Linked DNA regions of Homo sapiens. The protein of the gene in region 1 interacts with the protein of each later gene in a biochemical or structural test. Each region holds a gene or a part of one and is shown on either strand. Other genes may lie near its edges. The genes, in order: BLVRA, AKT2 and PRKCB.

Region 1 (3,746 bases):
GACTCTGTCTCTAAATAAACAAATAATTTAAAAAGAAGAATCTTGAGTTAGTTCCTGAATTATTGCATAATGACAAATAACAGCTCAGGCTGCAGTGACTCACTAGAAAGTTGAAAGAAAAAAGTCAACACCTTTGCAGAAACAACTTGCTTGAAGCAATTTAAAGCAGGTTTCTCCTCCCCCCGTATCTACTGCAGCCGGTCTGCAAAACAGTCTTGGAGTTTGAGCCTTTATTTGCTTTGACTCCGAAACACAACGGGCTCAGGTGCACACAGATGAGCTATCTCTCTAGAGGGATGAAGAGCCAGCCTGTGACCCCAGAGAACAGAGTTCTAGACCTGGCTTGGCACCCACTAGCTATGTGATCAAGAGCAGGACACGGGGTCCCTTGTGCCTTAGTTTCTGCACCTTGAAATAGAAGAGGGGGCAGATGAACTTAGATGACCCTTATGTTCTCTTTCTGTGCTAACATATCACTTTAACCCACTTTACTTCTTTTTTTTGCGGGGGGTGGGGGGTTCTCTTTCGGTTTAACTTTCTTGGTGTCTGGCTTGGTTAACTGAAGGTTTTTAGCTTCTCTTCTGGCTCCGCAAGCAAACTAGGTTGAGGCTCAGGTTGCAGCCATCAAGTTCCCAGGCACAAAGGTTCTGTACAGATAGGGCTTTTCCTTGGTACTCTGCCAAAGAGAAGCCACTCTCTTCCCCACCCCACTTTCCAGCCCCTATCTGCTCTATGTCCCTCCTCTACCTCCTCCTCACCACTTCAAAAGCTTCTACCTTTTACTGAAAGTGATCTTAATATAACAGGAGAGAAATGAGATGAGGTCAATTACTTTCACTAAAGTCTAGTGTATTTAAACTTGGAAGGGCATAATCACGTTTGAAAAGAGCTGCTTATTAACTCAAATAATTGTAGAACAATGTGTAACTCTATTTCAAAATAGGGTTGAGAGCAGAACTTTCTGGAGTCCCATACCTGTTCTTGGGCACTGACCACTCCCAGAAGGTCCAGATCATAACTATGTTCCCTTAGTGCTGAAAGATGATTTCTGCCCAGCCGAGTGCTACAGGAACTGCGTACACAGGCACAACTCACAAGTGCGGGGGCGGGGCGGGCAGGGGAAGGAATGCAAATCTTCCACACGCCAGAATATGTGTGGGTCTAACTTTTGTTTCTAACATTTTAAAAGCTCAATAATTATGCTTTCAAAGATCTCTAGAGAGAACATCTTTCTTCAGCAGATCGAGATTTTTTACAAGCAAGATTTCACAACGTGTTATCTGCATCCTCAATATTAATTACATAAATAATTTTATTCTCTACACTGACTATATCATGTTCTTTCACTGTTTTGTTTTCCTTTAGATTTTTTAAGGCGCTCCAAGTTCTCAGATTTCAGGTGAGGAACTTCAAGGCCTTTTCAAAGTCTGAGGTTTTCTGAGTTTGTAAAAGAGAAACGGCTAAGTTACAAGAAAAATCATTACGTATAAATTTGACTTATATAAAATATTCAACTATTCACTCAGGCATCAGCAAATATTTGTTTTAGCACAACAAACAGCACACATGAGTTGAAATATGGTGGACAGAAAACAAACCTAAAGAAATCCTGTAGCACCTAAAAAGAGAATGACACGACATTACTTCATGAAACAGAGCCAGGGGTCAAAAGCAGTAGTGGCCCACGGGTGCGCAGTATGTGCTTTGTTTTTCAAAAACATTTTTTGCCTATTTCCTTTTATTCCCACAATATCCCTAAGAAGTAGAGCGCCCCCCGTGCCCCAACCTTCATTCTGCAGAGGCAGAAAGACATTGGATCCCTTGCTGATGGTGGTCCCTGGTGGTCCCTCCTCAGCAGGCAGGCTGACTGTACTCTTAGCATCCAGCTGGGTTTAGCCAGTGGAGGAGATCGGCAGGCAAGAAACAGAAAGAGAGAGGCTAGGGTACTTGTGCTCCCCCTGCCTGGTTCCTCAGGCTGCTGCTCTGGCAGTGGCTGCATTCTGTGATGGCCACAGCAGGTCTGGAAGGGAGTGGCTCCTCCAGCAGTATTCCAGCCCCCTCCTCCCAGCTCTGGTCCCCTCCCTACCCCTTCAAACCAGAGAGGGGATGGTGCCCACTGAAGCTCTTCCCTGTGTGCCTCACCATCACTTGTTGGCTCCTCCAATCCTGCCCACTCTTCTATAAAAAGTCTCCTTAAAATTCCTTTCATTTTTATGCTTTTCACTGTTGGGATTCCCAACTGATAAACTTGGCAGTATATCAGTTTGCAGCATCCCTGGCCTTTCCCCACTAGATGCCAGTGGCACATACCGTTTTCCCCCCAGCACGACAATCAGAAATGTCAGTAACAACTACTGGGTTAAGGGCCGGGCACGGTGGCTCATGCCTGTAATCCCAGCACTTTGGGAGGCCGAGGCGGGCATGGGGCTGATCATGAGGTCAAGAGATCGAGACCATCCTGGCCAACATGGTGAAACCCCATGTCTACTAAAAATACAAAAATTACCTGGGTATGGTGGCGTGCACCTGTAGTCCCAGCTACTCGGGAGGCTGAGGCAGGAGAATTGCTCGAACCTGGGAGGCGGAGGTTGCAATGAGCCGAGACCGTCCCACTGCACTCCAGCCTGGGTGACAGAGCAAGACTCCATCTTAAAAAAAAAAAAAAAAAAAAAAAGGAACTACTGGGTTCATGGAAATCACTAAATTATTGCTGACAAAGCTCTAGAGTTTCACATTCCAATTTGCACGTGGGAGAGATGCAAAATCTCACAGTAAATTAATAGCACAGCCAGGACTAAACAGCTTCCTTGGCTTACATTATGTTTCCCTTTTGATTTCAGTCTCTTTCCCACATGCAAATTGGAATCTGAAACTCCAGAGCTTTGTCAGCAATAAATTAGTGATTTTCATTAACCCAGTATTTCTCACCAACATTTCTGATTGTTGTACTCGGGGGGAAAAGGGTATGTGCCATTGGCATCTAGTAGGGAAAGGCCAGGGATGCTGCAAAACATCCTGTGATGCACAGGACACCTTCCTACCCCAACTACACATACACAAAGAATTATCCAGCCCAAAATGTCAACAGTGCCAGAGTTGAAAAAGCCTGGATTACACATCATGCAGAATGAACTACAGCTGTGACCTTCCTCCTTGTTCCTCCTCAAACGCCCTCTCAAGTATCTATTATTGCCCCAAAGCCAGGTGACTCACAGAAGTATGGGGAAGGATTAGGGAGAGGGTGACCCTCTCAGGTGGGGCCAGCTGCCAGCCTCAGAGGTCTAAGGGTAAAGGTAAAAGCAACTCTTGCCCTGGAGGGAGTTGGATACTTTGGGATCTATTGAGAAAAATATAATAGCTACATGGGACACAAGTCTGGAAATATATACATCAAAATATTACCAGTAATTATGTCTCTAAGTGGTGAAACTTTTAGTGACTACTTTCTTTTTGCTTCTCTGTACACTTTAAACTTTTCTATAAAGATTAGTTAACATAATTATTCAAAACTCTAAAAAACATTACAAACTATGCCACTTTCACTGACTGCATCCCTCCTAGCCCCAAACTGAACAGACTTTCACAGGGCAATAACATATCAAGGTGCTCTGATAATGAAGTCCACAGAAAATTTTCCCTATAACTGAGAATCAGGAAAGGCTCTGCTTCCTTCAAGGCCATTAACATTTGGGGGATCAATGAATGAATGAATGAATGAAGTTGCCATGTATGTTTTACTTTCAAAA
Region 2 (3,746 bases), on another chromosome or scaffold:
AAGCCAAGGTCATGATCTGGCCTAGGGAGCAGGGACACTGGCCACAGACCTCTGGGGCTGGCTGCTCCCAGCACCAGCCCACAGACCACAATAAGACACCAGATCCATGGGGGATCTGACTGTCCCAAGCCCTTCAGAGCAGCCTTCCTCCCTGGGCCAGGCTGGGCCAGGGGCACCCCCACTCCAAGTCCCCTTGGCCTATGCAAAGAGGAACAGCTGGGAAAACAGCTCCCGGCCTCACTGCAAGGCCAACTGTTACTGCCTTGGTGGGGAGTGTAAACATGATGTGTGACCGAGCTGGTAACTGGGAGACACAAACAGCTTCGTGGCCAGCGACAGAGGAGCATGTAGTGGTCTGCGTTGGTTCCTGGACCCTTCACATCCACTGCCAACCAAGTTCAGCCCACGAGTGAACTCCTGCTGCTTCTCTGGGAAGGTAGGAGTGGATGAAGTTGAAAAGCAGCCCATTGGAGGCTCTAGTTACTCCAGCCCAGGCGTCTTGCTGAGCCCCAAGAGGTCTCCAAATGAGAGGAAGAGGTCCTCACAATCCCAAGATCAAGATGCCCCCAGAGAGCTTCCCTGGGGGGAAGAGGTGTTCCCCCAAACACTCCTTCCTCCCAAGTTTTAACAAGCGGGTGCAGGGGCACGGCTCCTCAAATCCAAGCCCAATCCCTCTTCCTCTTCAGAATGTTAAGGCTCAGACAACTTCAGTGACTTCTAACACAGCTTTCCTCCCTCCCCTATGGAAGGAAAGAACTGTTACTGCCTGGTAAATAATCTGAGAGGGTAATGGAATCCAGAGCAGCACCTCCATGGTCCAAAGCACCCCAGTAACCATGACGTTCCCTCCAGAGTCGTTAAGAAGTTCAATAAAGGCTGAGATCAGTGTAAACCCCCAACGCCACACACGTCAAATACAGGAAACAGAAACCCCTCCTCACCAATCGGCATCACAGTCCTCCCAAAATACGCCCCTAAAACCCACTAGGGCCTGTCCCGCCCCGTCCCAGTCCCTTAAAGATCACAAACATCACAGTCCTCTGATTTGGGTTCCCCTACGTTCTAAGCAGGGCTCCCCCAACGCCGTGGTGATATAACCCAGCCACAGTTGGGGAAGCATCCTCCCCAGAAGCCCCCACCCCTGTAAATACAGCACAGCAACGGCTTCCACAGCGCCAAAAAGGTACAGCCCTCTACACTTGATGCGGCGCGCCCCCTCGATAGCTTAGCCCGCGCACGCCAGGCTCGATCTGCCCGCCGCGCCCGAAAGGTCCAGCCCCCGGCCCGCGCACGCTGCGGCCTGCGCTCCCCGTCCCGCAAACTTGCAGCGCTCCCCCCACCGCCTCAGTGGTATGGCCCGCCGCCACCGCCCCGGCCCCCCGAGGCTGGTCCCACCGCCCCCGCTCGGCCACCCCCACTCAGCTCCTGAAGGAGGGGCTCGAGGGCCGCGGTCCCCCCGCCGGGCACGGGTGGTACAGCCCATCGCGGCACCGCGGGGGGCCCGGACGCGACCATCGTGGGGGGGGCGTTCGGGGACACGCGCTGGCGCACTCACCTGTCACCGGCAGCCGCCCAGCCTCTCCGGCGGGGCTCTACCCCCGCCCATCGCCACGCTGCGCTGGTTCCCTTTCCTTGTGTTTCCCGGCAGCGGCAACGGCGCCGGCAGCGGCAGCGGCGGCGGCGACGCCTCCTCCGAGGCAGGCCCAACGGCTAGCACGGCGCGGCCCCCCCCGCCCCCTCCCCCCAGCCCCCGCTTACCGCCCCCTCCCACCCTCTGGACGGAAATACCGCCCTCTCGCGCCACAAACAGGAAGTGACGTACAAAGAGCCAGAGACGAACTCTGAGAGAGCGAGAGCGCAAGAGCAGGGCAGAGAAGGAGGCGGGCTCACAGCAGGGCGCCTGCGCACATTAGACAACTTTGGGCCTGTGTGGGTTAGAGATGGGCCTCGCTAGGCCGTGGGGCGGAAAGGCGAGATGGGGCTACGCAGGCGCACTAGGACTCCGACGTCTGCTTTCCCTAGGGCCTAGCCGTAGTGATTATTTCCCGGCAGCCCCTAGTCCGTATTTACATACGCTTTGATCTTGTTTTACTCAGTTCTGGGTTCTGACGCTCTTAAAGGACCCCGGAGCGGGAGTTAGTTAGGAGGGGTTTCCTTTTCAGTGTGCTCGTCATGGTTGAGCTCAGGCTCTGAAGCCACACAACCCCAGACTTGAATTTCCTCCTTTCTGGTGACTGTGGGCAGAAGGCTTGACCGTTTTCTGTGCCTCAGTATCCACATCTGCTAAATGGAAACAATCATCGCTGTGTCGCTGGCTTTTGAACCATTTTAATGTAAACAAAACGGTTTTTACCAATTAGTTCATTACTGCAAGATATTAATGCCACCTGCTCTCATCGTACATATTCCAGTGAATCTGGGATATAACATTTTATAATGCAACTTGGGCCCATAAAGGCCTTAAAATCACCCTGCGGCCGGGCGCGGTGGCTCACTCCTGTAATCCTAGCACTTGGGGAGGCCAAGGCAGACGGATCATGAGGTCAGGAGTTCGAGACAGCCTGGCCAACATAGTGAAACCCCGTCTCTACTCAAAATACAAAAAAAAAAAAAAAAGCCGGGCATGTCGGTGTGTGCCTGTAATCCCAACTACTTGGGAGGCTTGAGGCAGGAGAATCGCGTGAACCCGGGAGGCAGAGGTTTCAGTGAGCCGAGATCATGCCATTGCACTCCGGCCCGGGCGACAGTGCAAGTCTCCGTCTCAAAAAAAAAAAAAAAAAAGAAAAGAAAGAAAAAAGAAAAAAAATGACCCTGCAAGAAAAGAGCTTTGCACAGATCCTAATCCGTATATTAGCTAGTATACTGGACAGCTGTGAGACATCTGGCTCCCAGCCCCTCCTCTCTCATAGGGGATTGTGCTGCCTCCTGAATTTGGGTTCCAGTATGCCATATAACTTGGCAATTGTATGCATTGGTAAGTGAGAAAAATGCCTGACTGAGAGTTGAATCCTGGGTCCACCTCAGTCTGTGAGAGTGTTTCAGGCAAATCCTGCTGAGGGTTCGGCTTTCGTTTTCTGAGACGTAAACCTAATGCTGGAACTAGCCCTTTCTTATTTGGTTTCTAGCTTGGAACTTGCTGCTTGGTATTCCTAATTCCCGGTCTTCCCCATCAGTCGGTGTTAATAACTCTGACCAATGCCTCCCCCTTCACAGCCCTAACCATTTTCATCTATTACTGTCTGGTGACAGGTCTGTTTCCCCCACTGCACAGGAAACACAGTAAAGGAAGAGACCAAGACTGTCTCAGAGATCAGTGTGTATCCAACATTGCCCAGAGTGGGCTCTTGCAGAATGTTTGTTTCAAGCATTAGCCCTTCTGCCCTAATCTAGACTCAAGGTTACTGTGACCAACCCTCTTCACTCCTGTCCACACTGAACAGCTCACAGGCCATTCCCCTACGTCTAAGTCTCCCCTGGGCCAACTTGAATCCTAGCCCCTCCTAGGGCACTTAATTATGACACACTGAGATCTCACTGAAACCACCCATGTGCTTGTGTATAAACTCCTTGCAGCACTGGTAGTCAAGGGCAGTGGCTTTCTCTTTTTTTTTTTTTTTTTTTTTGAGACTCACTGCATCGCCAGGCTGGAGTGCAGTGGCGAGATCTTGGCTCACTGCAACCTCTGCCCTCTGCCTCCCAGGTTCAAGCGATTCTCCTGCCTCGGCCTCCTGAGTAGCTGGGATTAC
Region 3 (3,746 bases), on another chromosome or scaffold:
AGGTGTATGTCAGGCAGCCCGGGGGGCCCAGCCTCCAGCTAGTTACCCACAGAGTCACCCGCCTTCCTCCCTGCCTCTGTACCCCAGGTGCAAACTCCCAGCCACAGGCGGGTGCCCAAGAGTCTTCCGCCTTTGTGGGGGTAGGTGGGAGCTCGGCTGTAACCCCCATCTGCCTTCACTCCTGCAGAAGAGAGGAGGCTGCGACCACCAGGTGGCGGGATAGTGGGGAGCGTTTCCGTCGGGGTAGGGGCTGAAGGCAGGCGACAGATGTACCCATAGATGCCCCGAGCACCCTCGGGAAAAGAGAAGAGATAAAGACGCATTCAGAGGGAGGGCGAGAGTGACCCCGCGGCGGTGGTGTCCTCTGGGAGGGGGACTGGGAAGGAGGAAAGGATGCCCCACTACTGGAGGGACTGGGGAAGAAAGGGGCCCGCAGTGATGTGACCGAGGAGTGGAAAGGGGAACCCAGGCCCTCGGGGAGGGGCAATGGGAGATAACACAGGGCGCTGCCCGGAGGCACAGAGGAGTGAGAAAGGATGTCCCATGCCCGCAGGGAGATAGAGAAGGACACCCAGGGCGCCGCCCCCCCCGGAAACAAGGGGTGGGGGGCGAGGGCTCCTCGCGCCCGGAAGCAGGCGGAGAGATAGGGAACCCCGGGTCGGAGAGCACCCGAGGCGCTGCCCTCCAGGGCAGGCACAGACCCCGCGCGCTCCTAGTCAGGTGGAGCAAAGGCTCCCGCGACGCCGCCCCTGGGCGCTCTAGAGGCGCCTGAGAGCAGGAGAGGGCAGGAGGCGCCCCGCGGCGGCCCGTCTGGGACCAGGGTGGGGACAGGGCAACGGCAGGACTGTCCATCCGGGAGTCCCGGGCAGCAGGGTCCGGAGCCGGGAGTCCGGAGACGCGGGGTCCCAGGGTGCGGAGGGCGCGGAGGGCGCAGAGGGCGCGGAGAGGGGGTCCCTGGCGCGGCGCTGCCCTCGGGGGCCCGGGAAGGTGCCCTGCGCGCGCGCGCTCACCAGATGAAGTCGGTGCAGTGGCTGCAGAAGGTGGGCTGCTTGAAGAAGCGGGCGGTGAATTTGTGGTTCTTGACCTCATGCACGTTCTTCTGCCGGAGGGCGCCTTTGCGGGCGAAGCGCACGGTGCTCTCCTCGCCCTCGCTCGGCGGCGGCCCCGCAGCCGGGTCAGCCATCTTGCGCGCGGGGAGCCGGAGCCCGAGAGGTGCCGGCCCCGGGGCCGCGGGACCGCGGGCTGCGGGCCGGGGAGGCGCGGGAGGCGGCGGCCGCTGCTGCACCCGGGGCCGCGGGCGCTTCCCCTGCGCCGGCTCTGGCGGCCGCGGCGCGCGGAGCCGGGGCTGTCACTCGCCCAGCTGCTGCCGCTCGTCCAGCTGCGCTTGGCACCGCTGGCCCCAGCTGCGGGGGAGGGAGGCGGAGCCCCGGGCCAGCCCCGCCCTCCTCATTTGCATCGCGCCCAGGCCCCGCCCAGCGCTGCCAGCTGCTTTACATATCGGCGCCCGGGCTACCGCGGGCCTCGCGGCTAAGCGTGCACAGCCGCAGCTCTGCAGCGCCGGGACCGCAGCCCGGGGTCGTCGGACCCGAGCCTCGCCCCCCACCCCACCCCGTCCTCGGCCCCCGGGGCTGCGTTCAGGAGATGTGCCCAGGGGAGGAGCGAGAGTGGAAAGACCTACGGGGCGAAGGGGAGCGGGTGGAAGGGGTGGGGCGCAGCGAATTCCACCCCGGCCTCTGCGGAGACTGGTACCCATCCACCCCCATCCATCCCATTGGTCATTCTGCACGCGTCTCCTGGAGGGATGGGCTCCCGCTGTCACTCATTCGGAAAGGCTTGTGGCCGCACACACTTACACACACATACACACACACGTTCTGCAGAGGTAGGGGAGGAGCGATCTTTATTTTATATGTCTCTAACTCCACCACAGAGAAGATTCTTGGCTTTGCTTGCCTCCTGCACGTTTGGAAGAGAACTCCCTACCTTCTGTCCATCCCCTCTGCAAAACGACTCCGTTTCCCCAACTGTAACATAGGGCTAATAGTGTGGGGAGGAAGGATTTCAGTAGATCAATATTTTTCCAAATTTCATTCATTTCTGACTCGTCTTCACAAATTCTGGTCGTATTTGTGCACCCTCTGGGGGAAAAAAAGCCTATCTCTTTTGGTCTGAGTTTGAACAGCAAGAGGTATCTACATTATTAAAATATCTCCAGGTGCCGTCATCTGTCCTAAGCATCTTCGACTGAAGTCATCTTTTATTTGTTAAGAGAGGAAATTAATAAATGCTAGAGGGGTGTTAAAGACATTACTATCCAACCAGGACTCTCTCCTTGATGTGATCTGAAGGTAACTGAAAGGGTAATAATTGTCTACAATGTGTAATTCAATGTTATTTAGCGCCCTGTTCATGCACAAGGCCTAAAGATACCCACTGCCACCATGTCCCCCACTCTGGGAACGCAGAGCTTCATTAGGCTGTGAGCTCCTTCACCAGACCTAGGCTCTGTGAGAGCAGGGGGGCTGTTCACCACCATGTCGCCCAGCACCAAGCTCAGTGCCTGACACCTCCCAAGACCCCAGTAAATATTGGTTGATTGAGTGAGGGCATGGATGAACAAGTGAATGAATGAAGACTTAAAGGTCGGCACTTCTTACCCCCACTCACACCCAGTAGGTGTTTAATAATAAATATCAAGTGATTGCTGGGCATCAGGTACTTGTGCTGTCTTATTTAGCCCCCGCAACAACCCTATGTAGATCTGGTAACTTTCATTATGGATAAGGATGGGGAGGTTCAGAGTGATTAAGATACACCCACAGTCATACCGTTGCTGAATGGTGATTGGGCTGGCCTGACTACAAAGCATCCTGGTGACAAAGGGGTGAACCTGAGTAGTGGTGGATGAAGGGGGGCAGGCTGGAGTTGCACGAGCTCAGGTCCCACTATGACAATTTTGCCTGGAAGCTGCTGAGTGGTAAGTCATTATTAGGTAGCATGTCGAGAGCAAGGGCTGCAATAATAGAATGTCCCTCTCCTACATAGTAATTCAAAGGTAAGGAGGAAAAAATAGCATTCACTTTTAAGGTTGACATGTTTGGGAAACTGGATGTGCCTGTCTATTATTAGTCCTTGAAGAGGCCCCACCACCTCCCAGGGAGGCTTGGGAAAACATCCCAGGAGACATTGCTGCTGAAGTAGATTTCCTTTGAACTGATGAGCTGGAAGCTCACAGCCCACATCCTGCCTTTTGAATGAAGTGCCCTGGATGACTTTGGTCTGTAACAACAAACAGTACCTCATGGCGCCGGGGCCTGGGGATGCAAGGGCTGTGGATGGAAAAGAGCCACTTGGTTCCTGAAGGCGTTGCACCAAGTGAGGATGAGAAATGTGGTTCCCATTGGACCCAGATTCCTGTAGGTCAGGGTCTCAAACTGGTGGCTCCAGATGCTCTATTTTTTTTAAGCTAGCCCAGTGGGTTGTTGTTGTTGTTGTTGTTTTTTAAGTTCACGGGTCATAGAATTTTACTTAAATATCCAGATTCTGACTTATCTAGGAAAAAAGATAGAGCTAAATGGAGCCTACATTCCTCCCTCACTCATACATTTGTTCTTTCAATCAACAAATTGCTTATTAAGCACCTACTGTGTGCTGTTCCAGATACTGTTAAACAAACCAGACAAAGGTCCCTGCCCTAGTGGAGCTTATAGTCTAATGGGGAAGGGGGAGTAATAACCTAACCAACT

The links.
Region 2: the proteins of BLVRA (region 1) and AKT2 form a complex in vitro, tested with the Homo sapiens proteins (one study listed by BioGRID).
Region 3: the proteins of BLVRA (region 1) and PRKCB form a complex in vitro, tested with the Homo sapiens proteins (one study listed by BioGRID).

What each region holds. Positions count from the first base shown.
Region 1 is NC_000007.14:43,761,535-43,765,280, reverse strand, and holds part of BLVRA (biliverdin reductase A), read right to left. Parts: intron 2,651-3,746; exon of another isoform or gene 2,507-2,650; intron 1,077-2,506; exon of another isoform or gene 976-1,076; intron 1-975. UniProt on the Homo sapiens protein: Reduces the gamma-methene bridge of the open tetrapyrrole, biliverdin IXalpha, to bilirubin with the concomitant oxidation of a NADH or NADPH cofactor. Does not reduce bilirubin IXbeta.
Region 2 is NC_000019.10:40,283,626-40,287,371, forward strand, and holds the start of AKT2 (RAC-beta serine/threonine-protein kinase), read right to left. Parts: upstream 1,721-3,746; 5' UTR 1,556-1,720; intron 1-1,555. UniProt on the Homo sapiens protein: Serine/threonine kinase closely related to AKT1 and AKT3. All 3 enzymes, AKT1, AKT2 and AKT3, are collectively known as AKT kinase.
Region 3 is NC_000016.10:23,833,613-23,837,358, reverse strand, and holds the start of PRKCB (protein kinase C beta type), read right to left. Parts: upstream 1,377-3,746; 5' UTR 1,184-1,376; coding exon 1,011-1,183; intron 1-1,010. UniProt on the Homo sapiens protein: Calcium-activated, phospholipid- and diacylglycerol (DAG)-dependent serine/threonine-protein kinase involved in various cellular processes such as regulation of the B-cell receptor (BCR) signalosome, oxidative stress-induced apoptosis, androgen receptor-dependent transcription regulation, insulin signaling and endothelial cells proliferation.